Linked DNA regions of Homo sapiens. The protein of the gene in region 7 purifies or fractionates together with the protein of the main gene of each other region. This does not show direct contact. Each region holds a gene or a part of one and is shown on either strand. Other genes may lie near its edges. The genes, in order: VTI1A, STX5, GOSR1, DNAJC1, XPO5, GAS6 and CLEC12A.

Region 1 (4,277 bases), on a different chromosome or scaffold from region 7:
TGGGATTTTGGGTCAGGCAGTGTGAGTTCACAGCCAAAGCTCTCAATGTGGCCTAACTACTGCTCTATATTTTTAGGGTGTCCTTTAAAAAAAAAAGTCTAGCAGTGTGCATATATGAGCCAAATAACTACCATGGTGACTTCTTACTAACATCATTAAATTACTTGTTATTATTATAATAGATGCTTGTTTGAATGCTTATATGTTTATAAGCCAGAGATGATTGTTGTTATAGGTATGAGTAAAGAGACAATGCAAGAGGGAAAAGGAGAGAGAGATGTAGAACAAGGTAGTCAGATATTGCCAAGATTATAAGAGAGGCATCCTTCTAGTATGGAGTAAGGCACCTCCCAGGTAATGGGGAATGAGTCTGAAAACGATTTATTCAAGGCAGCTGGTTATTTATGATGTCAAGCCATACCTACTGTCTTCTAAAAGGGTCTACGGCTGGAGAAGAGACTGCCTAGTGTCAACCAAATAAGATGATCATGGCAAGAGAAAACCTCATTAGAACTCAGCAATGTGACTTTTTAAAGAATGTTCTAAATTGCCTATAACAGTATAAGGGTTTCAAAGTTCTGGGGTGAAAACACTGTCTCCAGCATGAGCTCTCTTCAACTACTTGAGAAGAAATGCACCTCACCTTGAGTTGACTCAAGTACCTACAGCCACTGGTAACACGTTAAATGAGCCCTTGCCTTGAAGAGAGCAAAAGCCTAGAGATAGTTCACTACCAATAAGCTACAGTAGGTGAGCATATGAGGATTACTTATGCAGGGTGAATACACTAAAATTAAAATTGTTCTAAATGGAGTCTGACATACATATGCAAAATGAAAGGGGAAAGGGAGAGCAGAATCATTAACATTACTAGTAACCTGTAAAAACCAACAGCTAAATTCCATGATGACAAAATAGACTAATGGACCTCAGATCTTCTCCACCTTTGCTGATATTTGCTGGAGTGGCCTGGACAAGACATCATCTCTAAATCATTATTTTCATGTTGGTTATGTTCTATAGGTCAAATATCTAATTATGCCTAAGATAAATAGATAAATTTATCAAATACTGTTTATATTTTTCAAATACATGAATTGAAATATGTGTCTGATGTATAATGCATGCATGCAACTTTAACATTTTATGCCATTTTAGTATTTCTGAGATTTACTCTCATATGCACTCCAAGTCATTTTTCCTCACTCAAATTTTCTTTTCCGTAGAGCAAATTGGTCAGGAGATGTTGGAAAACCTTAGTCATGACAGAGAAAAGATACAGCGAGCACGTGAAAGAGTAAGTACAATTGATACAGTTTTTTCACATATTCAGTAAATGAAGACATAAATGAAAGGCATTGGGACATAAACAATAGCAATTAGGTAGATATATGTGTGTAAGGTGAAAGAGGGTATAAGGTCTGTGGAAAGGAAAAGGAAGAGGGTGAGATGGAGCAAATAGCAGCTGACTCTATGTCCCCATTCCAGAATGTTCCCAGGTAGGTATTTTATTTACTTCTTATAGAGGAGAAGGTCACTGAGGGAGATTTTGGAGTATGTTCATCTTTTAGAGTGAAAACTATAGAATTATTGGTGGTCATCTTTCCTCACTTCATTTTATTTTTGTTTATATGTTTTTAGGACTTTGCACATTCATAAGCTGGAGATGAATTACCAAATGTATATGAAACTTTTTCAGCCTGTGCTTTGCTTTTATGTCCAGTTCTAGTATCCAGCTTAAAGCTCCCAAGATTACCTCTCACGTGTCATTCTCCAAATTTAAGAATTTTCCAAGTTTGTGTAGCTGTCAGAATGTATTTATTTTTGTGTATTTGAACATTTTTATTGTTTGGATTTTCTATCATGAAATAAATTGTCGCTTGCCATGCACTTTAGAAATAATCTAATTGCATGAACTTCTGTTTTGTTTTGTTTCTTCTTGTAGCTTCGGGAAACAGATGCTAATTTGGGAAAAAGCTCCAGGATTCTGACAGGGATGTTGCGAAGGTAAGAGCAAGGTAGGGACATATCTTTCTCTCTGTGTGTTTTTTTAAAATACTATGTTTTCATTCAATTGCAATGGGGCATATTACATGCTTTTGAGCTTCTGCTCTTAGTACCCTGTGCAGGACCCATTTGAAATAACAGAGCACTGATGTTAACTCTTGTTTGGACAGGGACACATACTAACACAGATTAGAGAGAAGGCTTGAGCTAGGGGGGTAACCTCAAGCTATGGAAAAAATTAGGGTTAGACATGAAGTATTTTTTCATAGCCTGAGGAAGGCCCCATGGGCAGCAGCAGGCTGATTTTATTTTCTATTTCGATGGCCTTCTTCTTATGGAGGGAATGCAGACCTACCATTTTCAGGAGCACATTTGCCATTAGCTTTGCTCTCTGTTGCCTTGTTTTCATTTCTTTAAGTGACGCTGTTTGGGGAAACATTTCCGTTTTATGTATATACTTAAAGATGATTTATAAAACGTCAAGATTATCTGAATAATATGTGCTAAGAAACAAATGTTCATGTTTTATATGTGTAACTCTACCTTGATTGATGGAAAATATGCTAAATAGTATGAGAAAATAGATGAATGAATGTAGGTAATGTTCTTATAAGTACATTCAGCACGAAATTATTTCACATTCAGAATCTACCACATAAAAATATCATCTAGCACGACTGTCAGTTTGGAACTGTGGATAGAAAAGTGAACGAGAAACATTGAGAATGGCCTCTGGAATGGCTTAACTGGAATTTTTAAGAAGGAAATCTTTATAGTTGATACTATAGAGACAACCATCTAAAAATAACTAAAGTCTTGTCTGATCACATATCCATATACAATAGTTTGCTAAAAGTATGTTTGCCGTGTTACAGACTTATTGCATAAGAACCAATCAAATGTCTAGTGGTTTGGTCTTCAAGGCTGATAACATTTTCTAAGCAGCCTGACCAGTAGCAAGCCTAAAGTTCCTGGGACATTTCCAGCCAAGGCTAGTATAATGTGACATTTCCCCTCATTTCCTTGAACCCGACTCCCAACTCAGAATCATAAGCCATCAAATTCTGTGATTAAGAGTACTATGTAAATGGCCTAAGAAAAACTCAGAATTCAGAGAGAAGGGTAGTAGCAATTGAAAGGAATGCTTCAGTGCCTATAGACAATAAAAAAGAAAGGAAGGGGAGGGAAAAACCTCTGTTGCTTCCCTGGGAGGGCTCCTGCGTCGTGAGCTGTAACGAATATTCTGCATATGTCTCCATTTTGTCAAATCTCATTAAAGAGTCCTCCTGCTTTATGTCAATTGAGCTGTCCAGAAATCATTCATCATTTTTAGTGTAAAAAAAATGATGTGGTTATTTAAATAATATCATATTAATGTTAAAGTTCAGCTGTCATTTAATGGTATGGCTTAATCAGATGTAGCATTTAGGAAAAATAGTTTATGCGGGCTCTACGTGGCTTTCAGGTTGGCAGATTCAAATAAGGATTTATGGGTTTCGAAACCAATGTATTTCTGTCCATGTTTCTGCTTGATCTACCTCACCCTTTAGTGCGGGACACTGCAGACAGTTATTTCAACAAATAAAGCATCTTCTCATATTGTGTTTGAATAAATTTGCAAGTCATTTAGAGAGGGTGAAGCACAAACAACTTCTGCAACCTTTGACTGGGCTTTCTGTAGGGAAATCATAATAACGTGGTTGTTTCAGAAGCCTACGGAAGAAAATTACTCTGGTGAAATCTACATGGGGTTCTCTTTGTAGGCAAACTCAGTCAATCACTGACTCATCTTCTTTTGGGATGTGTCTAGAGTATGAACAGAAATAAAAATTCCCAGATGGACATCACCTTGCTACATCTGAACCAAGGGTATGCTTAAGTCCACCTGTTCATATGCATGACAATGTTTTTCACTAGGCACAGCTGGGATCTTGGTATCAGCCAGGATATTCAGATATTTTCAACCAATGCCATAACGTGGCAGGTTTTCTGGGGACCAAATGCAGTGGTTTTAGTTTCTAATTACTGCCGCGTATGATATACAATGTATTTTGGACTTGAAAAGGCACAAACATTTTGCCAACCTCTCTGCTTCATTATTTTGGTTATCTCATGGAAAAGCTCTCTCTAGAGAAGTAGAGGCAGGGTTTATGTACCAAAGCCTTTTATTGAATGCTCTGATTTTGCTTTCCCTGTTACAACCCTCCCATTCATATGGCTTTCACTTCCAGCCCTTGTGAGCTTGTGTTTCAGAAAGAAAAGCCACATTC
Region 2 (4,277 bases), on a different chromosome or scaffold from region 7:
ACCACACCCAGTTATGTCTGTGAAAATTAATGATTTCCTAATATTATGTATTATCCAGTGAGTGTTACGACAGAGCGATACTCTGTCCTAAAAAATAAAAAATAAATAAAATAAAAACCACACCCGGTTGGCTGGGCATGGTGGCTCATGCCTGTAATCCCAGTACTTTGGGAGGCCAAGGCGGGCGGATCACAAGCTCAAGAGATCAAGACCATCTTGGCCAACATGGTGAAACCCCATCTCTACTGAAAACAGAAAAATTAACTGGGCGTGGTGCTGCGTGCCTGTAGTCCCAGCTACTCGGGAGGCTGAGGCAGGAGAATCGCTTGAACCTGGGAGGTGTAGGTTTCAGTGAGCCGAGATCGTACCACTGCACTGCAGCCTGGCAAGAGAGCAAGACTCCATCTCAAAAAAAAAAAAGACACCCAGTTATCCTATCTGTTAGAATTAACTATTTCCTAATATGTGATATCCAGTGAGGGTTTACATTTTCCCAGTTGTCCCCAAACTGTTTAATAGCTTTTTAAATATTAAATCAGAAAGCCAGGCATAGTGGCTCACACCTGTAATCCCAGCACTCTGGGAGGCCGAGGCAGGCGGATCACCTGAGGTCGGGAGCTGGAGACCAGCCTGACCAACATGGAGCAACCCCGTTTCTACTAAAAACACAAAATTTGCTGAGCGTGGTGGCGCATGCAGGAAAATCACCTGAACCCGGGAGGCAGCGGTTGCGGTGAGCCAAGATTGCGCCATTACACTCCAGCCTGGGCAACGAGCGAAACTCCATCTCAAAAAAAAAAAAAAAATTAGCTGAGCGTGGTGGCACCTGCCTGTAATCCCAACTATTTGGCATGCTGAGGCAGGAGAATCTCTTGAACCTGGGAGGCGGAAGTTGGGTGAGCCGAGATCACGCCGTTGCACTCCAGCCTGGGCAACAGAGTGAGACTCTTATCTAAAAAAAAAAAAAGGAAGAGTCCCGGGTGCGGTGGCTCACACCTGTAATCCCAGCACTTTGGGAGGCAGAAGTGGGTGGATCACCTAAGGTCGGGAGTTCGAGACCAGGCTGATCAACATGGTGAAACCCATCTCTGCCAAAAATACAAAATTAGGGCGTGGTGGTGCATGCCTGTAATGCTAGCTACTTGGGAGGCTGAGGCACTAAAATCACTTGAACCCAGGAGGTGGAGGTTGCAATGAGCCAAGGTTGTGCCATTGCACTTCATCCTGAGCAACAAGAGCGAAACTCCATCTCAAGTAAATTAATTAAATTCTTCCTCTTTTCTGAGCATCGCTATAGGCTTTAATTATAGGTTTTAATGTATTGGTTGTCTTATTATTAGTTAGGGCAATGATTATTGTGAGTGCTCAAGTTGTTCCAAATATGTCTGGTGGGAGCCTAGAGGGTTTAAAAGGCTGAGAGAAAATAAAGGTATGTTAGCATGCCAATGGAAATGATGCAACGGATAAATTTAAAAATGATAATATAGGAGAAAGATGGGAGAATTCTTGAAATGATGTCCTTGAGAAGGTGAAAGGAAGTGGGCTCCGGGGCATAAATCAAGGCTTGGCTCTAAGAGGAGCTGGCGATAGGTGGGAAGACAGAGGCTATTGTAGCAATGCTCGGGGTGGAGCGGCATTTATCTTCAGACCACTTCAGTCTTCTCAGCTCATTAAGAAGAAAAGCCAGTAGAGGAGAGGAGGTGTAGGAGGTTTTAGGAATCCACTCCTGCCCACTTGATCTTATCCCTTTAGCAGGGTCCAACCCTGATTGATCTTTATTCCCCACGGTATCTAGCAGAGTGCTTTTACTCTACGTTGTTGATCATGTGAAACTGAGTGAACACCTACATTTGTATAAAGCCGGTTTCTGAACATCAATCCACTAAGCAGCCTCACACATTTAACTGGCCAAGGTAAAAGAAAACACTTGGAGATTCTGATTCGAGAGATGTGAATGGAGTGGGCTTTTCAGGGAGCTTCATTTTTACAAATTCCATAGGGGGTTCTGATGAGCATCCAGGTTTGGGAACTACTGATTAAAAGAAAGTTTGTTTATTCAACTACTATATGTTGAGCACCAGCCATTTATAAGGTACCGTGAGTACAGCTGTCTTGATCCTAGAGTCAGGAGAATTGACTGATTTTTTTTGTTGTTGTTTGTTTGAGACAGTCTCACTCTGTCACCCAGGCTGCAGTGCAGTGGCATTATCTTGGCTCACTGCAACCCCTTCCTCCCAGGTTCAAGTGATTCTCCTGCCTCAGCCTCCCGAGTAGCTGGGATTACAGGCATGCACCACCATGCCTGGCTAATAATTGACTGATTTTTTTTTTTTTTTTTTTTGAGACGGAGTCTCACTCTGCCACCCAGGCTGGAGTGCAGTGGCAACCTCCGCCTCCTGGGTTCAAATGATTCTTCTGCCTCAGCCTCCCAAGTAGCTGGGACTACAGGCACGAGCCACCATGTCCGGATAATTTTTGTATTTTTAGTAGAGATGGGGTGTCACCATATTGGCCAGGCTGGTCTTGAACTCCTAGACCTCGTGATCCGCCCACCTCGGCCTCCCAAAGTGCTGGGATTACAGGCGTGAGCCACCGCACCCGGCCTAATTGATTTTTATCTATTTCAGCTGAGACCTAGGGAACCCCTTGCAGAATTATGCCATAAACACCATAGCTCCCTGAGCTATGTTGTATTTTGAATATTAGAATATTAAGTCTGGGCGTGGTGGCTCACGCCTGTAATCTCAGCTCTTTGGGAGGCGAGACAGGCGAATCACGAGGTCAGGAGATCGAGACCATCCTGGCTAACACGGTGAAACCCCATCTCTACTAAAAAAAATACAAAAAAATTAGCCGGGTGTGGTGACCGGCGCCTGTAGTCCCAGCTACTAGGGAGGCTGAGGCAGGAGAATGGCGTGAACCCAGGAGGCGGAGCTTGCAGTGAGCCCAGATCACGCCACACGCCACTGCACTCCAACCTGGGCAACAGAGTGAGACACCGTTTCCAAAAAAAAGAATATTATAGAGTCAGTGAAACAGAATTATAAAAGATATGGAGGGCCAGGCGCAGTGGCTCATGCCTGTAATCCCAGCACTTTGGGAGGCCGAGGCGGGCGGACCACCTGAGGTCCAGAGTTTGAAACCAGCCTGACCAACATGGAGAAACCCTGTCTCTACTAAAAATACAAAATTAGCCAGGCATGGTGGCGCATGCCTGTAATCCCAGCTACTCTGGAGGCTGAGGCAGGAGAATGGTTTGAACCCGGGAGGCGGAGGTTGCTGTGAGCTGAGATCGCACCATTGCACTCCAGCCTGGGCAACAAGAGCAAAACTCCATCTCAAAAAAAAAAAAAAAAAAAAAGGTATTTGAGTTCTTTCCTCAATCCATATACATCTAAAATAAAGTTATAGCATATAGGCAACTTTACATTCTAGTCTTCCTTGAAACAGTGTCATAAGTATTTTTCACTGTTAGCATGTGTTTGCTCATTGGTTTAGCAAACATTTGTTGCTGCTGTGAGCTAATCCTGCTGGGTCTGAGGATAAAAGGGTGAAAGACCATTCTGGTCCTCCTGGAGCTCACTAGTAGGAGAGACATAAGTTGACAGTGACAGCTCAGTATGATAGGGCAAGAAGAGAAGGGGATGAGGCTGGGTGTGGTGGCTCATCCCTGTAATCCTAGCACTTTGGGAGGCCGAGGCAGATTACTTGAGGCCAGCAGTTCAAGAAAGCCTGTGCAACACAGAGACCCCGTGTCTATTAAAAAAAAAAAAAAAGGGATGAGAGAACTCAGAGTAGGTACTGCTCCTAGATGGGGCCAAGGGGCCTTCCCAGAAGTGATACCAAGCTAAGACTTGGAGGGAATGCCAGCCCAAAAAGGGGAAAGGAGAAGCTGTTCCATGTGAGGAAAAAACAGCACAGAAATGAGAAAGAACTTGGTAGATACAGGAGTGCAGAATTATTCAGCATGGCTGGGGGAGTGGTGAGAGGCAAGGCCAGGTCACAGATAACCTGTGTGTCACAGCAAGAAATTTGGTGTCAGGGAGAGAACATAAGAAGAAGCAAGCGGATTGATGCTGGGTGAGAATTAGGTTTGTTCTGGGTGTGCTGAGTGCCTCAGACTTCATGGGACAGCTAAATGACAGAGTTTAGTAGGCATTTCATGTTCTGATGTTTGGAAGAGAAGGCAGTGCTAGAGGTAAGGACTTAGGACAGTGGCCTCTTGGTGAAACCCTGGGCATAGACCACCCAGAGACTGGGTAAAGTGAAAAAAAGGT
Region 3 (4,277 bases), on a different chromosome or scaffold from region 7:
AAGTGATCCACCTGCCTCAGCCTCCCAAAGTGCTGGGATTACAGGCGGGAGCCACCACGCCTGGCCGGTCTTTTCATTTCTACCTTCTGCTGTGACTAACTCAGAGTTGATACTCAGGAGACAGTTTAATGAATAGATGAACATATCTTTTATGGCCATTTTTCAAAAAGCAAGTTATTACAATGGGTTGCATTCTAGTGATTCCCACAAATTATGGGGGGGCTCAGTGTCTATACATTAAAGACCATCCCCTATATGGGTTCCCAATGCATTCCTCAAAACATATATATAAATGGACTACATGGAAATTAAACAAAAGACTTAAATGTCCTGAAGGACTAAAAATATTACAACAATCTTACTGTTGAAACTGTTACTGTTACAATAAAATAAAGGATCTCTAGGAAAGTGTTTTCGAGAGTACACATAATATACAGTTTACCATAAATGTGTATCATAGTTTATAAAATGTATCACATAATTTATCACAAATGAGATGATGACAGGTATCATTAGATGGCTCCAAATTGGAACATCTTCAGCTTCAATGAGACGCCCATGGGACTTAACTTTGTCAGTAGTGTTCAGTTGTAAAAAAATTTCCAAAAATGCTATGAAATGCTAGAATAGATCATTAAAGGTGAGGTGAAGGGACAGAAGAAAAAAACAAATATTTAAAATTATAGATTGAGATCAGTATGAGAATGTTGGGAGTCCTTAAATAATTTAACATAAGGCTATGAGTGAGTTTGTACATATTACTGTTTGTAATATGTAACTGTTGGGACAAGGGAGAGGGCCAGGGGATAGGTGATAATCAGGAAGAGAAACATAGGGAGCTTCAGTTACTGATAATGTTACAATTAAAGAATTTTTTTTTCTTTGACACATCTGCAGAGGATCATAAAAGTAACATTATAATTCTTAGGGTGGGAGGTAAGAGATCAGAGAACCATGAAGAACCACCTAAGCTGGACTTTGAATTAAGACAGGAAAGTCAAGGTTGGCAGGAGCCAATGATAAAGTAAGAGGAAGCATGAGATAAAAATGGAAAAGTAGATTAGGATGACATTGTAGCAGCAATGTTAAAAAGACAGTGAAATGGGAATTGGAAACCCTAAAATCTCAACCACGGTTCTGCCACTCAATTTGCAATTAACCGTGAACATATCCTAAAGCCAAATCTGAATAAATATTCTACAAAATAATATAAAAAGTAACTTACTCAATATCTTTTCGTACTGATCCCATAAGATTCTCCCTTTCCCGTATTGCCATAAAGTTTGCTTTGGTTTTATGGAATTCATGTGTATAATCCTGTAATAAATCAACATCCAGTCTCAACAGAAGCTAATTATGGATTTTCATCTCACTGAACCAGTTATGTATCGTCATCACACTGTAAATTTGTCAAGAAAACTGCTATTTAAGAAATCAAATTAACCAAAGGTAAAAATAACTTTAAAATTACTTTCCTGAAGAGTGACCAACTTCTTTCAAGTGAAAATAATTCAGTGCTAGGGAAACAGTGCCATTAAATCACTATCCTTTGTACCTCCTAGTACTCTGTCTTACGAGGCAGAATTAAGAAGAAAAAAATTCTGAGATAAAATAACTTCAAATAGTCTAGGAGAAAACTTGAGAGGCTCTTTTTACTTAGTAGTATACTTAATAGAGCTTATTTTCAAATTTCATCATTTTGGAGCTCTCACAAAAAATTTAATTCCTAAACAAAAAAGAACAGAATCAAGAGAATTATAAGGAACAAAATAATCTTTAAACATTTTCTACTATTTTTGTACCACTGTTAAAAGTACTTCATTACTTTTCATAAATTCAGAGATGTAGATAAAGAAGAAAATCAAAATCTTGTCTCCCAGAGTCCCTGTTGACCTTTTAAAAAACAAAAGTAACACATAAACATGGAGGAGAATATTAAAAGAGCACCAAAAGAAATAAAGGTGAAACAAAGGAAAACAAAACATTCTGCTCCATACCTCATAACTGTTACCATCATTTTGTATTTTCTTCCAGGAAATTATTATTTTCTTTTTTTTTGGAGACAAGAGTCTTGCTCTGTCGCTCAGGCTGGAGTATAGTGGTGCCATCTCAGCTCACTGCAAACACCACTTCCTGGGTTCAAGCGATTCTAGTGCCTTGGCCTCCCTAGTACTGGGACTATAGGAGCGTGCCACTACATCCAGCTAATTTTTGTATTTTTAATAGAGATGGAGTTTCACCATGTTGGCCAGGCTGGTCTTGAACTCCTGACCTCAACAGTTCCACCCACACTGGCCTCCCAAAATGCTGGGATTACAGGCGTGAGCCACTGCACCTGGCCAGGAAATATGTTTTTACATATACAAGCTTATCTATTATTTCTTTCACTTTGCCAAGTAAGTCATAATATACATTCTGATGTACACCTTGCTTTTTGTACTTCATAAAGTATCAAGCAATCTTTCCATATTAGGAAAAAGAAATCTACATCATTCTTTTTAATAGCTGCATAGAATATTATCTTATGACTATCACAATTTAATAAATTCCCTACTGATAAACACATTAGTTGTTTTCATTTTGTTTGCTATTAAAAATACTGCAAGACTAGGCAGGGTGGCTCATGCCTGTAATCCCAGCACTTTGGGAGGCTGAGGTGGGCGGATCACTAGAGGTCAGGAGTTCGAGACCAGCTTGGCCAACATGGCGAAACCCCGTCTCTACTAAAAACACAAAACTTAGCCGGTGTGGTGGAACGCACCTGTAGTCCCAGCTACTTTGCTCAGGAGTTTGAGGCAGGAGAATCACTTGAACTTGGGAGGCAGAGGTTACAGTGAGTTGAGATCATACCACAGCACTCCAGCCTAGGCAACAGAGCGAGACTCTGTTTCAAAAAAAAAAAAAAAAAATACTGCCAATAAACATTCTTACATATATTTTTTAAACTGAACTCTTTTATTTTAAAAAAAACTATATTTAGGCTGGGCGCAGTGGCTCACGCCTGTAATCCCAACACTTTGGGAGGCCAAGGCAGGCGGATCATGAGGTCAGGAGATGGAGACCATCCTGGCTAACACGGTGAAACCCCATCTCTACTAAAAATACAAAAAAATAGCCGGGCATGGTGGCGAGCGCCTGGAGTCCCAGCTACTCGGGAGGCTGAGGCAGGAGAATGGTGTGAACCCGGGAGGCAGAGGTTGCAGTGAGCCAAGACCGCGCCACTGCACTCCAGCCTGGGTGACAGAGTGAGACTCTGTCTCAAAAAAAAAAAAAAAAAAGTATATTTAAAGAGTAAATGTCTATTAAGTTCAACAGAGCTTAAAAAAAAAAAAAAGGAGTAAATGACTAGCAATAGAATAATTGGATCAGGGCTGGGTACGGTGGCTCATGCCTGTAATCCCAGCACTTTGGGAGGCCGAGGTGGGTGGATCATGACATCAGGAGTTCAAGACCAGCTTGATCAATATGATGAAACCCCATCTCTACTAAAAATACAAAAATTAGCTGGGCGTGGTGGCGCACACCTGTAGTTCCTGCTACTCGGGAGGCCGAGGCAGAAGAATCGCTTGAACCCAGGACGTGGAGGCTGCAGTGAGCCGAGATCGCACCATTGCACTCCAATACTCCAGCCTGGACAACAGAGCGAGACTCCGTCTCAAGAAAAAAAAAAAAGAATAACTGGATCAAAGAATCTCACATTCATTTAAATTCTGGTAGTGCTAAACTGCCTTCTATAAACATTACATCAATTTATGTTCCCACCAGCAATATATGAGTACCCTTTTTAAATTTTTACTCTTGCCAATAATGGGTTATAAATGTTTCAACATTTGCTAATCTGACATGTGAAAAATCACCTCTTTTAGATTTCTGTATTTTTATTTGGAAATACTGCTGAAAATGTTTTTATAGTTTTGGCCATTCATTTTTTTGTAAGCAATTTTATATCCTTTGTCCATTTTCCTACTGTCTTTTTCTTATTTCTATTATATCTCTGTGTAGTAAGCAAATTAGCCATTCGTTATGGTTTCCAGTATCAAGTCTTATTTAGAAAGTCCTTTCTGCTCCAAAGTTTACAAATTTCACCTCTGCTTTATGGTTTCTTTTTCTATCCTTCTTGGATCCATTTGGAATTTGTTCTGGATGTGAGGATTGAGATAGAATTGTTTTTTTAAAATCTCTGAATAATTAAGCAATGGTTATAGTTCCATTTATTTTATAATTTCTCTTTGCCCCACTGATTTTAAACAACATCTTTATCAGAAACTAAAAATTTC
Region 4 (4,915 bases), on a different chromosome or scaffold from region 7:
TGAGGACACAGCAAGAAGGTGCCATCTATGACCAGAAGGCCCTCACCAGACACAGAATCTGCCGGTGCCTTAATCTTGGATTTCCCAGCCTCCAGAATTGTGAGAAATCAAGTTCTCCTGTTGAAAAGCTGTCCAGTTCATGGCATTTTGCTATGGCAGCCCAAATGGCCTACAACACAACAATTACCCACATGGCTTACTCCCTAACTTCTCTCAGAGGCCTGCTCTGACCATATAACATTTATATTTACTTACTTGGCTGTTTACTGTCTGTTTCTCCCTACTGAATTATAAGCTTAGGGGTTTTGTTTTATATAAAGGTCAACTCCCAATGCTTAAAATCCAATAGGCACCAAACAAATCTCTGTTGCGTGAACAAGAAGAGATTAGTGCACAGAGCCAGGTCACCACTTTCAGCAGCCTACCTACTTTGTTCTGGTCCCTCATGTTTGGCTAGTCACCAAATGGCTCTGGCTTGAAAACTACACATGAAAGACCCTGGACAGGTTGCATTTGTCTCCACCAAATTTCTGGTCCCTGAAAGTCATCTAACAAAGTTAAGATTCAATGTAAAGAAAAAAACTTGTTCCATTCAGTTTCTCTGCTTGGACAGAATAAAATTCCTCCTGGCATTCTTTCCAATTTTAATACAGCTGGATAGAGAAACACAGGTTAAAACAATTTTCTGGATCCTTCTTTTCGGATTCTACCTTGACAAAGAATCTTCTTGATTATCTATGCTTCTTTATTTTCTCATCTTTGCCCAGAGAGTCAAGTGCTCTGGTTGTTCACACTGCCTAATTAACTATGCAAATCAAGTTACATGAAATTATAAATGAAAATTCTATGAGTGTTCACATGCAAAGCTAGATTACATGATCTAAATTTTAAACTGCTACTAAATTTCTGTTCTCTTAAAGGCACTTAATTTTTCATGAATAACTGGATCTTCAAGATTTCTGGATAGATTATGTTTAAGACTCTCTTTACGTACAGAATGTAATCAATGATAAATTCTAATTATTCCCAGTATTAAAGTAGTTCTTAAAAGTCATCAGAGCTTCACTAATTATTTTTACACATACTCCATCATTTGCTTTGAAAATGAGATATATAGTGTATCTATAAGCAGGGAGGGGCACCAGGCAACAGATCATAAATATAGTTATTACAAAGTTGCTTGCACATATGAATCTGAAGTGTGAAATGCCTATACTTTATAACTCTTACAAAAATAAAAAATTGTTTCACTCATGGTACCCTGGCAACCCAGCAATTTTATATTCACTGATGGAATGAAAATGCAATGTCTGAAAATTAAAATTCAGTAAAAGTTCAATAGTTCACCCACATTTATGATAACCTATGGGGGAAGGGGATGTGCATTTCATATCTAGTCATGTGAAGTGTGCCTTGAATGGCAACTATCGTAAACATTAATTTTTTACTCCCATAACTATTCAAAGCATTGTACGAAGGGCTCAATCAGATCGTGTGAAGTGTACATTTTTCACCCCATAAGCCTGAAATCAGCGAAATGTTATCTTCTCCTTCGCACAAGGCTTCAGGTAGAGACTGGATATCTACCCTCACTCAACCACCCTCAATGGTAGAACTAAAAAGCAACAAATGGATTTTACAAGTTAATGTCTTAAGCTATAGAAGAAAACGAAATGAAACAAAAGGAAAAGGGGAAAAAAAAACCCATTCCTACATTACTGACCGGGGGCTTCTCTTCCAATCGCATCCCAAGTCCTTTGCTGCTCAAAAAACTTAACACCTCCAACCTGGTTAGACGCTTCAAATTCCTCCAGATTTCTAAACTGCGAAAGCGAAACAAACATCTACCTAACAGGCTAAAAAGATGACGAAGTACAAAGTAAGAAAAACTTTTGCAACACAGACACTGGCCACAGTGCATTCCTACTTTCCCAGAAGGGAAGAGGAGGGGAGGCAGCTGAAATAAGAATAAGGATGAGGTAAGTATCGGTGGAAGATGACAGTTTAGGGTGAGAAGCGGCTGCTCTTTCTCACATTCAGGGGGACAGGAAGGCAAAAGGTAGGTGTTAAATTAAAAAAAAAAAAAAGTCTACCCACACCACTCTTCGTTCTTCCTCCAGCACAGCTGGAGGGGGAAGGCTCTTCCCCAGAACGCCGGAGCAGAGAGAAGGCATCGCCACCCTAGGCTAGTGGCGCCGTCCAGCCTGTCACTGGGGCTGGGACTAGAAAAGTTGAAGCAGGAGTAAAGATCTGGGGAAGACGGACACGTCCTTCCAAGGCTGAGGACCCCGGTGACCCGAGCTGAGGGCAGCCAGAGCCCGGGGTGACCAAGCCCTGCCCTACGTGTCCGGCTGTCTCTGAGGAACCGGGTCGCCTGACGCCTGCCCTGGCCCCTCTCCGCCCGGCCCCGCGCGCCTCCTTGCTTACCTGCTGCACCCCGAGGAACTGGTAGAAGTTGAGCTGCACCTCCTCCACTAAGTCAAACAACTCCAGGTCTCCGCTCTCCCAGCCGCGCGCCGGCGCCACGGCGGCCAGCAGCAGCAGCAGCAGCCACAGCAGCGGCGTCCGCGGCGGCGGCGGCGGGAACGGCACCAGCCCGAGCTGGCGGCGTCCAGGAAGCTGCGCCGGCTGGGAGCAAGGAGCCGTCATCGCGCTGGGCTCGGAAAGGTCACCCGCCGCGCAGCTCCGTTGGCCGAGAGCTGGGACGTGGCGGGCGGCGCTGGCTGTGGGGAACAGCGCCTGTCAGTGAAAAGCGCGGGCAGGCGCACCGGAGCGGCCCGCCAGGTGGCTGGCCCCAGACAGAGCGCGGAGGCGGCGGGAGCCGGCTGCCGGACGGGCGGGTGGGTAGGCGGGCGGGGCCGCAGCCAGCGCTACGTTCCGAAGACCCTCGCCCCCAGGCCTACACACAGCTGTAGAGGCAGCGCCCGGCGCCTGGGCTGCACAGTGGGTGAGGCTTCCCTTCGCCTCAGCCTATCCCAGGCCTCGCTTCCGGTGACATCATGTCTCCTAGCAACCGCGGGAAGGGGGCGTGGCCGGAAGCCTGGACGCCTGGCGCCCCAGATCTGGGCCTGGGTGAAATGCCTCTCAATCACTGGCGCGCACGGAGCAGCTGTACCTGCGCCCACATGGGCTGAGAGACAGGGACGGTTATAGCCATCTCGCGTCCATCTGGAACGCCCCACGTGGACTTCCCCTGAAATAGCTACTGTCTTCCTCTCCCCTAGCTATCGAACACTAAAAGCATATTTGAAGCCTGATTAATTGATTATGGCTTCCATGCATTTAATTAGTCCATCAGCAAAGAAGACAGGACAAGTTGAACCAGGTTCTAAAAGGGGCAAATCTAGTAAGTAGAGAGAGGTAGAGCAGAAAAGGAATTGAAACCAAAACAAAAAGTATACTTCTAATTATGAATTAAGATTTACAGGCATAATACCATAAAATGACCTGGTAGAATTAACAGTTAATAATGGTGACTCAATCATAGTTGGAGGAGAAATGTAGTTTATCCACCTTAGCCCACCTCCAGTTGGGGTTCCTTTGAAAACAGACCTCAATTGAGATGTTTCTGTTTTAAAAGACAGGCTAAAAACCTCCTCTCCCATAACAATGTCTCACCTTCTAGTCTTGCATTGCTTCTGTTCAAGCTCTTTTCAAGTTATTTTCTCCACCACAATTCTCTTGTGTGGACTTTATTATTGTGTGCTTAGCACAATGCATAGCACATGAGAGCACTCAATTAGTTGAACTGAATCCTGTGACTACCTCCCTACCACCATTCCCCCTACCACAGATTTTTAGTTTATTTATTTATTTATTTAGAGACGGAGTTTTGCTCTTGTTGCACAGGCTGGAGTGCAATGACACCATCTCGGCTCACTGCAACCTCTGCCTCCCACGTTCAAGCAATTCTCCTGGCTCAGCCTCCCGAGTAGCTAGGATTACAGACTCCTGCCACCATGCCTGGCTAATTTTTTGTATTTTTAGTAGAGACGGGGTTTCACCGTGTAGGCCAGATTGGTCTCAAACTCCTGACCTCACATGATGTGATCTACCCACCTCAGCCTCCCAAACTGCTGGGATTACAGGCATGAGCCACCACCCCCAGCCTAGTTTATTTTTGGTTATATCAGTTTTCTTAAAGTGAACGTCATCTTTACCAAGTCCCTAAATTAGGTTACTGTTTATTCAATGAACAAAACATCGAAATAAGATGAAATTAATGATCTTAAGCACTACTTTTACATATTATAGTAACATTCATCTTTTCTCCTAATTTGATCATTAGATTAAGTGCAATAAAACCTTTGAAACTGGTGCCATATTGCCACAAATCTGGGATTCTTACCCCGATCTTGTAGCAGACAGCCTAGTATTTCCCTTTTGAGTTTTACCTTTATGTTGTCTGAGAACCTCGGGGACTTACTCCATCTAAAGATAGCCCATCCTCTTTCTAAGGCCATGCTGAAACAGAATTGGATTCTATTAATAATACTTCTCATGGACATAAGGTATTACTCAAAAATTCATGCTGCCCAGCTCCAATGACACTTGTCCACCCTGAGATGATCTTCTTGCTTGTCCAGGTTCCTGCAAAGACCACAGTGATATTCATATTTAGACTTCTAGCTTGGCCTCTTTACCTATTCAGTCATTGTCCCAAAAATTACAGTGCAATTGAATAAATCTTTTGCTGAGGTCTGAACTAAGGGAGTGACAGTATCCACTGTTTTCTTCCCTGGTGACATGTACTAATTCTGGGCATAGACTCATCCAGCTTGGCCTGGGCAGAGGGAGTTTACACAGAAAAAGAGAAACCAGTGAGATGTTTAACCATCATGTGAGCTGTGAAATGGATTGGAAATATAGAGGAGCCCCAAACATATAGCCAGTTTTCCCACAGGACATTCGCTGA
Region 5 (4,813 bases), on a different chromosome or scaffold from region 7:
GCTTTGGATGTACCACCCAGAGAAGGCACACAAACTCAGAAAGACAGAGAGAAAAAAGAAAGCCACAGTGCCTAATCAGAGATTCATTGACCTATACATTGCATTACTCTAAAAAGGCTTCGAGGGCTAATGACATATAGTCAGAGCTCAGTAAGTATTGGCTAAATGGCAGGTAATATTTGTTGAATGGGTAATATGTACCACACACTTTACATGGATGAAGAAACTGAAGAAAAGAAAGGTTAAATCTTGAATGAGAGCTCCTGTGAGGTTCTGATAACATCTAGGGGATCATTCCTCTCTTCTTGGAGATTGCTCTTCTCTACTCACCTAAACAGCATCTCTATAGGTTATATAAGATATAAAGATCTGTTCTCTCAGACTTCAGTGGTAATGTCCAAGAGCTCCTTACTTGACAACGTGTTCCAGGATCTGAAGGCCAAAATGTCTGACGATGGCAACTTGTGTTTTCTCAGCCAACCTCAAGCCACAGGGGACACAGATAGGACACTTTTCTTTAAACTCCTCACAAAACTGAAAGAAGAAAAGTTAGTGTTTCCTTTCGAGGGCTGAGAGAATAGGGACTAAAAGAATTTCATCTTAAGAAACTCCAACCAGGGCCGGGTGCGGTGGCTCACACCTGTCCCAGCACTCTGGGAGGCTGAGATGGGTGGACTACTTGAGTCTAGGAGTCTGAGACTAGCCTAGGCAACATGGCGAAACCCCATCTCTATTAAATATATATATATATATATATTTTTTTTTTTTTTTTTTGAGACGGAGTCTCACTCTGTCGCCCAGGCTGGAATGCAATGGCATGATCTCGGCTCACTGCAACCTCTGCTTCCCAGGTTCAAGCAGTTCTCCTGCCTCAGCCTCCTGAGCCCATGTAGCTGGGACTACAAGTGCACGCCACCACACCCAGCTAATTTTTGTATTTTTAGTAGAAACAAGGTTTCATCATGTTGACCAGGCTGGTCTTGAACTCCTGACCTCAGGTGACCCACCTGCCTTGGCCTCCCAAAGTGCTGGGATTACAGGCGTGAGCCACTGTGCCCGGCCCACTAAAAATATTTTTTTAAATTAGCCGGGCATGGTGGCAGGTGCCTGTAATCCCAGCTACTCAGGAGGCTGAAGTGGTAGGAGAATCACTTGAGCTCGAGAAATCAAGGCTGAAGTGAGCCGAGATCTCACCACTGCACGCCAGCCTGGACAACCAGAGTGAGACCCTACTCAAAAAGAAACTCCAACCTAAGCTATATGTTTAAAGTTGCAAAACCTAGATCAATATTATGTGGATCTCCAAGCACAGTTGCTTTAAAAATATATATTTAATATAAAAATAAAAATATAAAATATATAAAAGTTACACATATATAACATTTCCTCCAAGTGGTGTTCACTCTATTTTATGTGTATATATTATATATATATTATGAATAAAGAACTGATAAACATTCCTTCCAGCGTGATGGTTCCAGATTTTTTCCATGCTACGGCCAACAGTAGCCCTACTAGTGTTGGAAAAAAATGGACACAAAGGAATAAGAAATTATTTGTTAGAGACATCCCCCTGACGTACATAGGGGTGAAATAACAATTTCTAGGGTTTCTTTTAAAAACCTTCGAGGCAGGGAGAGAGGATAGGCGGTGGAAAAAGTAAATGCGGTAAAATCTTTGATTGCTGAATTTAGGTGACAGGAACATGCAGAATCACTGTCGTATTCTCTCCACTTTTGTGTCTATTTTAAATATTAATAATAAAAACCAAACTAATGGAACCCAATTGTTTCTGATTCCAAACCCTGTGGCAGACATCTACATATTGTAACATTTCCTCCAAGTGGTGGTCACTCTCTTTTTTGAAGTTAACATCACTTTAAAAATGTACAGCACAAGTATTTTCTCCTAAATGGCCATTTCTCACAGCCCACACACGTTGTTTTATGGGCAAGTAAGCTTGAATTGTATTAACACCCCCAAACTGCAACATAAGTCAGTCCCAAGAGCAGAGCATTCGGGTCTCACGCAAACTACTTTCAGGAAACCAAAGTGCCCTTGTTAAAATGCAAAGTAAGTGGTAGAAGTTATCTTTGCGCAAAATAGCCTAAAAATATTACACTCAAAAACATGGGAGAAGTAGGGGTGCGAGAATTTCCCCGGAAAATGTCCAAGACACAAACGAAAGTTAGCGAGATGTTAAAGCATATAAGCATAAGGGTACCAGAGGGGCTGGAGCTCGGTCAGGGCCAGGGGAGTGGGCCAGCAGGAAAACGTTTAGTGCAGGAGAGACCATAAAGAACGAAGCTGGTGTTGGGGGCGGGATCTACACGTGCGCCTCGGGAAGGCGAGGGGATGTCGGGCTTGGGGAATGAAAATGGGCGAGGGTCATGTTGCGGACAAGAGTGCACAGAAGCGAGGAAAGGGGGAGGAGAGGGCTGTGGGAAGCTGCGGCGAGATGAGAAGCAGCATAGGGACCGGAGTGTCCCAGGCAAAGGACAGGAGCGGCGAGTAGAGAAGGCGGCGATTTGGGAGAGGCGCGGAGGGCCGCGAGGGGAAGGTCCCGGGGAGTTGGGAAAGGAGGTCCAGGGGCCGCGTGGGCGGGAGACTACCCCAGTTACAGGCGGCGCCGGAGCTGCTGGGGCTGGGAGAGGGTGTCGGGACCGGCCCAGGACGCCAGGACCCCAGCTACCTTGAGGGCTTCCAGCCGGTAGCGCTGGGTGGAGTTGGGGTCCATCATGACCGTCACCGCTTTCACCAGCTGCTCGCACAGCGCGTTTACTTGATCCATCGCCATGCCTAGCGCCACGCGCCGAGAGCGCACACCACTGCAGTCCCGGGACCACGAGGCACGACAGCTCCCTCGGCGAGACCACCCGTTGGTACCGGGCCGCGGCGGGCGGCGGGGGTGGGAAGCTGGAGGAGGAGCGTTAGCAGCAACTCGCGCTGGGAAGAAGCCGGCGCTGCGCACGCGCCCGGCCCGCCACTGCGCACGCGCCCGCGGAAGTGGCGGCTCCCGTGTGCAGGTTGAGCCTAGGTGGGCGGGGCGGGAGGCGGAAGGGCCGCGGTGCGCAGCCGCGTCAACGGCCCTTCGCAGCGGGCGCGCTGTCAGACCTCAGTCTGGCGGCTGCATTGCTGGGCGCGCCGCTCTCGTCTGATCCCTGCTGGGGACGGTTGCCCGGGCAGGATCCTTTACGATCCCTTCTCGGTTTCTCCGTCGTCACAGGGAATAAATCTCGCTCGAAACTCACTGGACCGCTCCTAGAAAGGCGAAAAGATATTCAGGAGCCCTTCCATTTTCCTTCCAGTAGGCACCGAACCCAGCATTTTCGGCAACCGCTGCTGGCAGTTTTGCCAGGTGTTTGTTACCTTGGTAAGAAAATTTAGAACCGTTCGCTGTCACTGTGTTCAGACTTTCTATGTTGCCTTGGCTATTGGTTTTATAATGTAGCAGTGACTGGGCCAAGGTTGCGTGAAATATAAATCATGCTAACAGGGATAAGGCCCTGGTACTGTCTTCTAAGATTTTTCTTGTAGAAAAAAGTATGTTTTTCCCTGTAGTTGTTAAACCTCTCTCTTGGAATTACTTTCCTGGATGTATTATTACCTGGTGGGCACTAAACTTGTTTTGTGCGGATTGGGGTAACTCGAGATGTTTAAAGGGAATAATTGCAATCAGTGAAGGTTTGTGCAGTTTTGATAATTGGCCAAGTGCTATGTATAAGGTTTCAAAGTAGTGTAATCCTTATCCAAAAGCATGGCTTGGGCAGAAAGTCTTCTTCATTTTCCATCTTTATAAAGCTCTTGGCCGGGCGCGGTGGCTCACGCCTGTAATCCCAGCACTTTGGGAGGCGGAGGCGGGCGGATCACCTGAGGTCAGGAGTTCGAGACCAGCCTCACCAACATGGTGAAACCCCGTTTCTACTAAACATACAAAAATTATGTTTGCATTTTTAGTATTTTTATACAGGCGTGGCGGTGCGCGCCTGTAATCCCAGCTACTCGGGAGGCTGAGGTGGGAGAATCGCTTGAACCCGGGAGGCGGAGGTTCAGTGAGCCGAGATCGCGCCTTTGCACTCCAGCCTGGGCGACAGAGCGAAACTCCGTCTCAAAAATAAATAAATAAAGCTCTTGCTTTCTCCAGTAAATACATAAACGGAAAACCTCAACAGCTTTATTATCTGTTAAAGTCTGCATGTCTGTTTTTGTGATTGTGTGCTTAGTAAATTGTGTGCTGAACATAAATCACTGCTTCCTATTCTTGCTCCACTTCTGGTATTTGGATCTAATATGGTGCTTAGCCTGTGTTTTTTTGTGTTACAATACTATTTGTTGGCTCAGTCTGTTCCAGTACTACTGAAAAGCCACTTCAAAGTAGAGGGACTTCTGGCATGTTATAGTTTTAACTTGTAAATGTTTAAAGTATCACATTCTGCCTGTTTTAGGCGTGGTCGATTGGAATTTATAAGGAATTAATGCTTTGACTGCTCTGATTTTAATTATTTTTCTTTCCACTCACCTTCCTGCTTTGCAGTTGTAAGACGTTTTTTTTTTCAAGGTGAATGTTAGTTTTTGAAAAACTTTTTTTAGAATACAGTTGGGTGCTCACTCAACTGTATAACCTGTGTTTCTCGTATTTAAATCATGGATTGCTGGTGTTTCGATTGTCTTATTTAGGTCTTGGCTCCCAAACTGCTGCATATTGGAATTACCTGGAGAGCTTTTAAAAATCCCCGGCCTGGCGCGGTGGCACACGCCTGTAATCCCAGCACTTTGGGAGGCCGAGGCGGGCGGATCACGAGGTCAGGAGATC
Region 6 (4,277 bases), on a different chromosome or scaffold from region 7:
GGCTCTGTGGCCCCAGCTTCCTCAGACCCCCAGGGTCTCTCCACTCCCAGAGCCCCCTGCCTGAGGGGCCGGAGCCCTGTGGCCAAGGCCTTTCCTCCTGGGCCCATCCTGAGGCCTGCAGGTGGACCCCGGCCCGGCCTCCTCTGAGGGCCGTCTTCCGTGCTGGCTCCGCAGCCCTCTCCTGTGCCCGCACCTGTGCAGATGCTTGTTTTCACCCGGGCGTCTGCAGGCACTTGGTGCCAGGCTCCTCCGGGGCTTTCTCAGAGGCAGCCGAGTGCCAGGCCCTGCACACGACACCCTCACCCGAGCCGGAGAGCTTCACATCTGTGGAAAACTCTAATTAAAGACGTTTTGAGAAACGCTGAACGTCTCCCTTTGTTATTTAGGAACAAAACACTCTTTTAGGAAGCAAGTGCTTATGGCTTCTTTCTTGAGATTCTGAGTAAAGGGGCGTTAAGCTTGCTAGCTGGGGCATGCTGAGCACTTCCCAGGTTATGGCTTTACCCCAGAGCGATTGACAGGCATCCAGGTTTCCTCATGCTTCATTTTCCCCTGTTTTCTAAGGTTAAAACTGAGAGCTGTTTCTCCAATGCAAAGCTGCTTGTTTAAGGGTTTCGTATTTGATGTTGGAAATGCTCTGGACTCTTCCATGGTTTTTATATTCCAGTGATTTCACTGCAAACCTGGTGTGTACGCCTTGTAAATTTTGACCCTGGCCAAGTGAAAGGTTCATTTTAAAAGTTTTAAAATAAATTTTAAAGGGGAGCTGGAAGTGGAATAAGTTAAGAACAGTATCAGTTTTGCCTTTCACTCTGACAGAGGCACTCTCTGCTCTGACTGACGGGTGTTGATTAAAAGTATAATATTCAAAAGAAATAGTAAAGTGCATTGGGCCTTGTTAATGTTCTACTAATTTTCTGGGGCTCCGTTTTCAAATTATAGGTGAAATTTTTTTCCTTCCAGTGTTAGTGCCTATGATAAGAAAATACATTTTCTCCACATCTGTCCACAAACCTGCTAGACCCTGTTTTGTGACTACCTCCCCTTGGAACTTGGGGCTCCATGGAAAACACACAGCTTGACCCAGCCAGCCCTCAGAGAGCCTGGGCCGGTCACTGCAGTGGCTGGATTCTCAGCATAAAAAGGCCAAACGTTCGGCCAGGCTGGGACTGGCTCCCATCCAGGACCAACTGTCCACAGTACAGTAAGGCCACTCTCTGAGTCAACATTGTTTCTTTTCTGAATTGCTAAGTTGACCGTCCCTGCAGAAGCAGAGAGGGCTGCGGTGTGGCATTCCTGCCCACTCCAAATGAGGGCAGCCCGGACGCGGGAGCTCTCAGGGAGGCGCAGTGGGCTTTGGGTGTGTCTGGACTGTCTCCACCACACCTGGAAGATACTGTTCACTTCCTTTTTACACTTGTGGGAAATACATGACAGTGTTTACGGGCAGGCTGGCTTTCCGTTTATTTCAACCCTGACAATTGAATAGCAGCAGCAGATGATGAAACTGTTCACTTCCCGATCACTCCCGTTCTCAGATCCATCACTTAGCTCGTCCGTCGCTCAGCTCGTCTGTTAGTCTGAAAGATGAATCGTGCACGGGTCCTCCTGAGAGTGCTGTTCTCGGGGTCTCCATGTGTGAAGTTGTTACATCCTCATGACAACTGTGTAACAGCTGTCACTGAGCCATTTTACAGATGTGGAAACTGAGGCCCTGAGAGGCTGTGGAGGGCTACAGTGTGTCCTGGGCATTTGAGCCCCACACTCTGTCATTAACTCCTGTGCTCGCTGGGACTGGGGGAGAGCAGGACGCGGCAGCACCCCCGGCCCCACTGTGTGCTCCTCTGTGTGCAGGCGACTGTGAGCATACTGGCACCCATGTGAGGGCTGAGTGGTGCTGGTGTGGGCGCATAAAGCACAGGGCGGCTGCGGGGAGCTGGGTGTGTGTCAGTGGCTCGGAGCATTAGTCTCGTGAACATGGTCTGCCAGGTGCGTCATGCTGGGCTACAGAGCCCATGGCTCCACCATAAATGGTGGTTTTGTGTTTGAACTTGAGTGTTGCTGCTCAGTGAGGCCAGAGGAAGGCACCAACCTGCAGGCCTGGCCGGTCCTCACAACACGGAAGGCAACCAGTCCACTAGAGAGACATGTGTCCCGGCCACTGGAGGAGTCCAAGTGACCTTTAAGTCTCACCAGTCCTCAGAGCAACCCAGGTGAATTTGGGGCCTGAGCTTGGTCGTCTGGCCGAAGACCAGCTCAACTTGGATAAAGCTGGAGGAGAAGCCTGTCCCTCAGGCAGCTGCCAGGGCATCTGTGATTTCTGCTTGCGTGCACTCTTGGCGACTATTGGTGGTGGTCGCAGTCAGGGCATCTGGTTGCCTTTACTGTCCTTACACCAGCTGGGCAGAGCTCAGGCTGGGAGCCCAGTGGGAGAGGCCGGGGCGTGACTCCCGGCGCAGAAGCGGCAGTGGCACACCGGCGTCCCAAGCACAGCTGTCCCTGCCAGGCCCCTGCGCGTTGGATCTTTGGGTTGAGTCATGCTCGATGGTGCAGCCATCCTTTCAAGGGAACTGAGCTGTCCAGCGTCCCATGGAGCAGCTCCCCGTGGATCCGGAGAGGCCGTAAATAAACCTCCCCATTTGTAAGCCGGGAACACACATGAACTTTGCAATCGTGTTTGTCCTGGGATCATAGAACGTGGTGGCTGGCAAGACCCAGGCATCCTCATCCTGTGCTGCTGTGAACAGAGGCCGGTAGCTTATTGAGGGACCAGTCCCAGTTCGCTTTCTGTGGGGAAGACTCTGATGGAAGCCTAGGCCCCAAACTCCAAGGTTAGCACATCTTCTTGGGGGGATTGACACCTCCAAAGGTGAACTTGGGTCCAAGGCACGTGTGTGCGACCTGAAGCATGGGTGCCGTGTGCAGGAGACGCCCTCACCGGAGATGGGGACCGAGTCCACACGGCTCTAACTGCAGAATCACTGGCCCTGTGCCCACGACTATTTTATTTTGCTGTTTTATATGATCACAAAGTACACTGTCTTGTTTTTCCCAAAGCATTTGCAGTGAGACATCCCACTTCCTCTCCACGGCAGCTGTTGCGGGCACGAGGCTGCTCCCAGGACAGCGATGCCACCGGGGCTGGGGTGGGCACGGAGGAACCCTCTTCCTTCCTCCTCCCCGCCCTCTGCTCCCCCACAGACTGGCCTGTCTTTAGTCAGCACTTTCCCAGGCTCCCTTCTGCCCACCACGTGCAAACAGTGGCGTGTCCTGGGCCTCTCTCCTTGTAGTGTTTCTTGTGGCCAGCATCCCTCCCATCCAACAGCTGTGTGGCTTCCTGACTGGCTTCTCTCAGGGCCCGCAAGGATGCTGCCAAATGGCCAGAGACAGTCACTGCTCTGCACTTCAAAGCAGGCAGCCCTCGGTGGGGCTTGCCCTGAAAGACAGCGGGCCTTCCTCGATGAGAGCCTGTGCTGGCTCAGGGCCTGTGGGGGCTGCAGCTCTGTTCCTTCCCTGCGTCCACGCTCACATGCTGAATGTTGTGCACCACAGGACACCCTGCTGGGGGCTGTCGGGAGCATGCTCTGTGTTTGGGGCAGAGACGGGCAGAGTGAGTCTCAGCATTACTGCCGTGCAGGGTTGAGTCTCAGCATGACTTCCATGCAGGGGGAGTCTCGGCGTCACTGCCATGCGGGGCGAGTCTCGGCGTTACCGCCGTGCAGCTGCTGGAAGCCACTCGAGCTCCTCTGTCTCGTTTGCCATGAAGCCCATGAGAGACACTGATGTGTGTCTCGGGGCTTCTGTGAGAAGAGCTTGGTTACCCACCGGGTCAGGCACCACGTCGGTGCTGTGAGGCATGGAGGGTGCTCACAGCTGTGCAGTCAGCTACAGAGGCCTTTCCCAGCATCCACATCTGACCGGGCAGTCACACCAGGATGAGCTCCCAGGAAGAGGGCTCCCAGCAAGGGAGGGCGCACCTGGGTGTGAGCTTGGAGGAGGGCAGAGGCACCTGTCACCGCTGACCCTGGGTGCAGATGGGCATGCCGGGTATACTGACTGTGCTTTCCTGGGGCCTGTCTCCCTCCAGGTCAGCCTGGGGTCCTCTGGGCTGGGGGCCATGCACTGCCTCCTGTGGGCAGTGGGATCAGCACTTCCACTTTGCTCAGGGCTAGAGCAGGCTGCTGCGGGTGTGAAGACTTAGGAAACGAATTCGGAAGGAAGGAAAGGATTTTGCACTTCCCAAGCTAGAAGAACATGAATAGAGCCGGGCTGCCAGG
Region 7 (4,277 bases):
GAAAGCATTTTCTTTGGCCACTGACTCTCAGTTCTTCACCTCTCATTCTGTTCTCAACCAACTCTATTAGGCTTCTGCCCCCTTGGTGCCATAGAGACTGAGCTTTAGGTCACTGATGTCCTGCCTGTTTCATCCCAATAGTCACATGTCTCTTCCATTACTTCACTTCCCTGCAGCATTGAAAAAGTTGAACAGTCCTCTAAATGCTTTCTTTGCACATCCCTCCTGACACATCCTCATGGCTTCTCCTGTCACCATGCCTGCCTCTCCTCATTCTTTGTTGATTCCTCCTCCTAGATGAAACTCTACAAGATGGAATACTCTGAAGCCCTGTCCTGGGTCCCGTTTTATTGCATCACTCAGTACACTCTTCTAATCTACCTCATTCAGTTGTTTGACTTTAAATAGAGTGACTCCCCAATATCTCTGTATGACCTTTCCCTGAATCTCAAGACTAGAAAATACATGTGCCACTTTCACATTTCCATAAGGAGTTCTAATCTCATTTTAAACTTAAAATGTCAAAAATAGTAATATTTATTTTTCTTCTAAAATTGTCTCTCTCTCCAGACAGCCTCATCTCATTAAATACACATATAAATATATATTTAAATACAATTTTCAAGTGTTTTCTCTGTGCCAGTTCTGTTCTAATTGCATTATAAATATTAAATTATTTAGTGTCTGATACTTTGCAGTCTTTCTGTCTCCCATGCTTTAACCATATTGAAACTCAGACACAGAGATGTTAAAAGGTGTTAAATAATTTTCCCGAGGTTTCACAAGCAATAAGCAGCAGAACCAGAATTCAAACCAAAACATACTGATATGGTTTGACTGTGTCTCCACCCAAATCTCATCTTGAATTGTAGCTCCCATAAGTCCCACATGCTGTAGGAGGGACATGGTGGGAGGTAATTGAATCATGGGAGCGGGTTTTTCCCATGCTGTTCTTGTGATAGTGAATAAGTCTCATGAGATCTGATGGTTTTATAAAGAGGAGTTTTCCTGCACAAGTTCTCTCTTGTCTGTGGCCATGTGAGATGTGCCTTTCACCTTCCACCATGAGTGTGAGGCCTCTCCAGCCACATGGAACCATGAGTCCATTAAACCTCTTTTTACTTATAAATTACCCAGTTGTGGGTATGTCTTTATCAGTCGTGTGAAAATGAACTAATGCAGTAAATTGGTACCAATAGAGTAGGGCGCTGCTGTAAAGATACCCAAAAATCTGAAAGAGACTTTGGGACTGGGCAACAGGCAGAGGTTGGAATACTTTGGAGGGCTCAGAAGAAGACAGAAAAATGTGGGACAGTTTGGCACTTCCTAGAGACTTCTTGAATGGCTTTGACAAAAATGGTGATAAGGCTGAGGTGGTCTCAGATGGAGATGAGGAATTTGTTGGGAACGGGAGCAAAGGTGACTCTTGTTATGTTTTAGCAAAGTGACTGGTAGCATTTTGCTCCTGCCCTAGAAATTTGTGGAACATTGAACTTGAGAGGGATGATTTAGGATATCTGGCAGAAGAAATTTCTAAGCAGCAAAGCATTAAAGACGTGACTCGGGTGCTGTTAAAAGCATTCAGTTTTATAAGGGAAGCAGAGCATAAAAGTTCAGAAAATTTGTGGCTTGACAATGATAAATAAAAGAAAATCCCATTTTCTGAGGAGAAATTCAAGCCAGCTGAAGAAATTTCTAAAGTCATGGGAAGCCAAATGATAATCGCCAAGGCAATGGGGAAAATGACTCCAGGGCATATCAGAGGTCTTCCCAGCAGCCCCTCCCATCACATGCCCAGAGGCCTAGGAGGAATAAATGGTATTATGGACTGAGCCCAGGGTCCCTCTGCTGTGTGCAGTCTAGGAACTTGGTGCCCTGCATCCCAGCTGCTCCAGCCATGACTAAAAGAGGCTAAGGTACAGCTCAGGTCATGGCTTCGGAGAGGGTGCAAACCCCAAGCCTTGGTAGCTTCCATGTGGTGTTGAGCCTTTGAGTGCACAGAAGTCAAGAGTTGGGTTTTGGGAACCTCTGTCTAGATTTCAGAGGATGTATGGAAATGCCTGGATGTCCAGGCAGAAGTTTGCTGCAGGCATGGGGTGCTCATGGATAACCTCTGCTAGGACAGTGCAGAAGGGAAATGTGAGGTCAGAAGCTCCACACAGAGTCCCCACTGGGGTACTGTCCAGTGGAGCAGTGAGAAGTGGACCACCGTCCTCCAGCTCTCAGAATGGTAGATCCACTGACAGCATGCACTGTCCACTTGGAAAAGCTGCAGACACTCAATATCAGCCCATGAAAGCAGCCATGAGGGAGACTGTACCTTGCAAAGCCACAGGAGCAGAGCTGCCCAAAGACATGGGAGCCTACCTCTTGCATCAGCATGACCTGGATGTGAGATATAGAGCCAAAGGAGATGATTTTGGAGCTTTAAGATTTGGTGCCCTTTGGACTTGCATGGGGCCTGTAGCCCCTTTGTTTTGGCCAATTTCTCCCATTTGGAATGACCGTATTTATCCAATGCCTGTACTCTCATTGTATCTAGGAAGTAACTAACTTTCTTTTGAATTTACTGGCTCATAGGTGGAAGGGACTTGCCTTGTCTCAGATGGACTGTGGACTTTTGAGTTAATGATGAAATGAGTTAAGTCTTTTGGGGACTGTTGGGAAGGCATGATTGGTTTTGAAATGTGAGACATGAGATTTGGGAGAGGTCAGGGTGGAATGATATGGTTTGGCTGTGTCCACACCCAAATCTCATCTTGAATTATAGCTCCCACAATTTCCACGTGTTGTTGGAGGGACCTCGTGGGAGGTAATTGAATCATATGGTAGGGGTGTTTCTCGTGCTGTTCCTGTGATAGTGAATAAGTGTCATGAGATCTGATGGTTTTATAAAGGGGAGTTTCCCTGCACAAGTTCTTTCTTCTCTTGTCTGCTGCCATATGAGGTGTGCCTTTCACCTTCCACCATGATTGTGAGGCCTCCCCAGCCGCGTGAAACTGTGAATCCATTAAACCTCTCTTTCCTTATAAATTGCCCAGTCTTGGGTATGTCTTATTAGCAATGTGAAAATGGACTAATACACATGCTAACCCTAAAGATGGTGTTTTGCTTTTTATCACTATGAGATACTGCCTACAAATGTGCATATCTACCAACTTTCTCTAAAGAAAAATTTCAGAAATTTTTGCAATAGATTTTAGCTTAGAAATGTATACTTAATTTATCCATGGGTCATCAAATTCCCTAGTACTAGCTAGTCAAACTTCTGTTCTCTTTCACATGTCATACTGTAACAGATTTCTTACTGATAAAACAACTCTGTTATTTTGCCCTCCTAGATTAAATTCTTCCAGTGGTTTCCCCAAAAATCTAACTTATTCTGGCTAGAAAAGGCTGTAAATAATGTCTCCTCCTTGTTATTTTAAAAACAAAACAAAAGAAAACAAATAAAACCTTTAACATCATTTTTCACATTGGCCACAATTCTTCTGCCCCTCTGAATATATTCTGTTTTTCAAATAGAAATCTTTTCCTTAAATTATTGTCTTTGAACTTCATGTAATTGCTACCTGTAATGTTCTTCCTACTTATTTTGCATGCTGGTTCCTATTCATAAGATTTGAACTGCCTGCTCTCTATAACAGCTTAGTTTTAAATCTCTGCACAACATCGCCAAATTTGAGATCTTTTCTCCCTTTCTTTCTTTCTCCCTGTCTCACTTATATATCTATTTATCTATTTCCTCCTACAATTAAAATTTATAGCTGTGAAAACAGGAACTTGTACATCTTGCTCACTTTGATATTGTTAGCACCCAGGATAATGTCTAATAAATACAAGGCACTCAAAAGATAACTTTTGAATAATTGAACTTTTTAATAATTGAATAAGTTCATTGAATAAATAAACTTGAATAATTGAATACACATATAAATAAGAAAATAATTTTAAGAAAGATAGCACTGGCATTTATAATTCTAATCTTAGATAAAATCTTGAACATGTAGTTCTTTCAGTAGTAACTATTTTCTAAAGTCTATATAAGTTAAGTTTTACTATTTATTAGTAATTGTCTCTGGATTTCACAATATTATTGCACCATCAACTATGAGATGTAAGACATAGCTCAGAAGTATAGTGAGATTATTATGGTATCCCTGAATTGGATTTTCTTGAAATATCTAGCTAGTCTTTACCTAATGTATAATAGCTTTATACATAATGATGATTTAAATAACATAGTCACAATAATAATTCACTCACAAAGTTTATAA

Evidence for each region.
Region 1: the proteins of CLEC12A (region 7) and VTI1A purify together in Homo sapiens (affinity purification with mass spectrometry; 3 studies listed by BioGRID and IntAct, with this or other methods). This does not show direct contact.
Region 2: the proteins of CLEC12A (region 7) and STX5 purify together in Homo sapiens (affinity purification with mass spectrometry; 3 studies listed by BioGRID and IntAct, with this or other methods). This does not show direct contact.
Region 3: the proteins of CLEC12A (region 7) and GOSR1 purify together in Homo sapiens (affinity purification with mass spectrometry; 3 studies listed by BioGRID and IntAct, with this or other methods). This does not show direct contact.
Region 4: the proteins of CLEC12A (region 7) and DNAJC1 purify together in Homo sapiens (affinity purification with mass spectrometry; 4 studies listed by BioGRID and IntAct, with this or other methods). This does not show direct contact.
Region 5: the proteins of CLEC12A (region 7) and XPO5 purify together in Homo sapiens (affinity purification with mass spectrometry; 4 studies listed by BioGRID and IntAct, with this or other methods). This does not show direct contact.
Region 6: the proteins of CLEC12A (region 7) and GAS6 purify together in Homo sapiens (affinity purification with mass spectrometry; 3 studies listed by BioGRID and IntAct, with this or other methods). This does not show direct contact.

Annotation. Positions count from the first base shown.
Region 1 is NC_000010.11:112,666,992-112,671,268, forward strand, and holds part of VTI1A (vesicle transport through interaction with t-SNAREs homolog 1A), read left to right. Parts: intron 1-1,226; coding exon 1,227-1,297; intron 1,298-1,945; coding exon 1,946-2,007; coding exon of another isoform or gene 2,008-2,011; exon of another isoform or gene 2,012-2,018; intron 2,019-4,277. UniProt on the Homo sapiens protein: V-SNARE that mediates vesicle transport pathways through interactions with t-SNAREs on the target membrane. These interactions are proposed to mediate aspects of the specificity of vesicle trafficking and to promote fusion of the lipid bilayers.
Region 2 is NC_000011.10:62,811,158-62,815,434, reverse strand, and holds part of STX5 (syntaxin-5), read left to right. Parts: intron 1-4,277. UniProt on the Homo sapiens protein: Mediates endoplasmic reticulum to Golgi transport.
Region 3 is NC_000017.11:30,487,166-30,491,442, reverse strand, and holds part of GOSR1 (Golgi SNAP receptor complex member 1), read right to left. Parts: intron 1,318-4,277; coding exon 1,226-1,317; intron 1-1,225. UniProt on the Homo sapiens protein: Involved in transport from the ER to the Golgi apparatus as well as in intra-Golgi transport. It belongs to a super-family of proteins called t-SNAREs or soluble NSF (N-ethylmaleimide-sensitive factor) attachment protein receptor.
Region 4 is NC_000010.11:22,000,786-22,005,700, forward strand, and holds the start of DNAJC1 (dnaJ homolog subfamily C member 1 precursor), read right to left. Parts: upstream 2,946-4,915; 5' UTR 2,650-2,945; coding exon 2,428-2,649; intron 1-2,427. UniProt on the Homo sapiens protein: May modulate protein synthesis.
Region 5 is NC_000006.12:43,573,068-43,577,880, forward strand, and holds the start of XPO5 (exportin-5), read right to left. Parts: upstream 2,972-4,813; 5' UTR 2,798-2,971; coding exon 2,693-2,797; intron 535-2,692; coding exon 413-534; intron 1-412. UniProt on the Homo sapiens protein: Mediates the nuclear export of proteins bearing a double-stranded RNA binding domain (dsRBD) and double-stranded RNAs (cargos). XPO5 in the nucleus binds cooperatively to the RNA and to the GTPase Ran in its active GTP-bound form.
Region 6 is NC_000013.11:113,853,831-113,858,107, reverse strand, and holds part of GAS6 (growth arrest-specific protein 6 precursor), read left to right. Parts: intron 1-4,277. UniProt on the Homo sapiens protein: Ligand for tyrosine-protein kinase receptors AXL, TYRO3 and MER whose signaling is implicated in cell growth and survival, cell adhesion and cell migration.
Region 7 is NC_000012.12:9,973,996-9,978,272, forward strand, and holds part of CLEC12A (C-type lectin domain family 12 member A), read left to right. Parts: intron 1-4,277. UniProt on the Homo sapiens protein: Myeloid inhibitory C-type lectin receptor that acts as a negative regulator of myeloid cell activation. Myeloid cell inhibition is required to limit proinflammatory pathways and protect against excessive inflammation.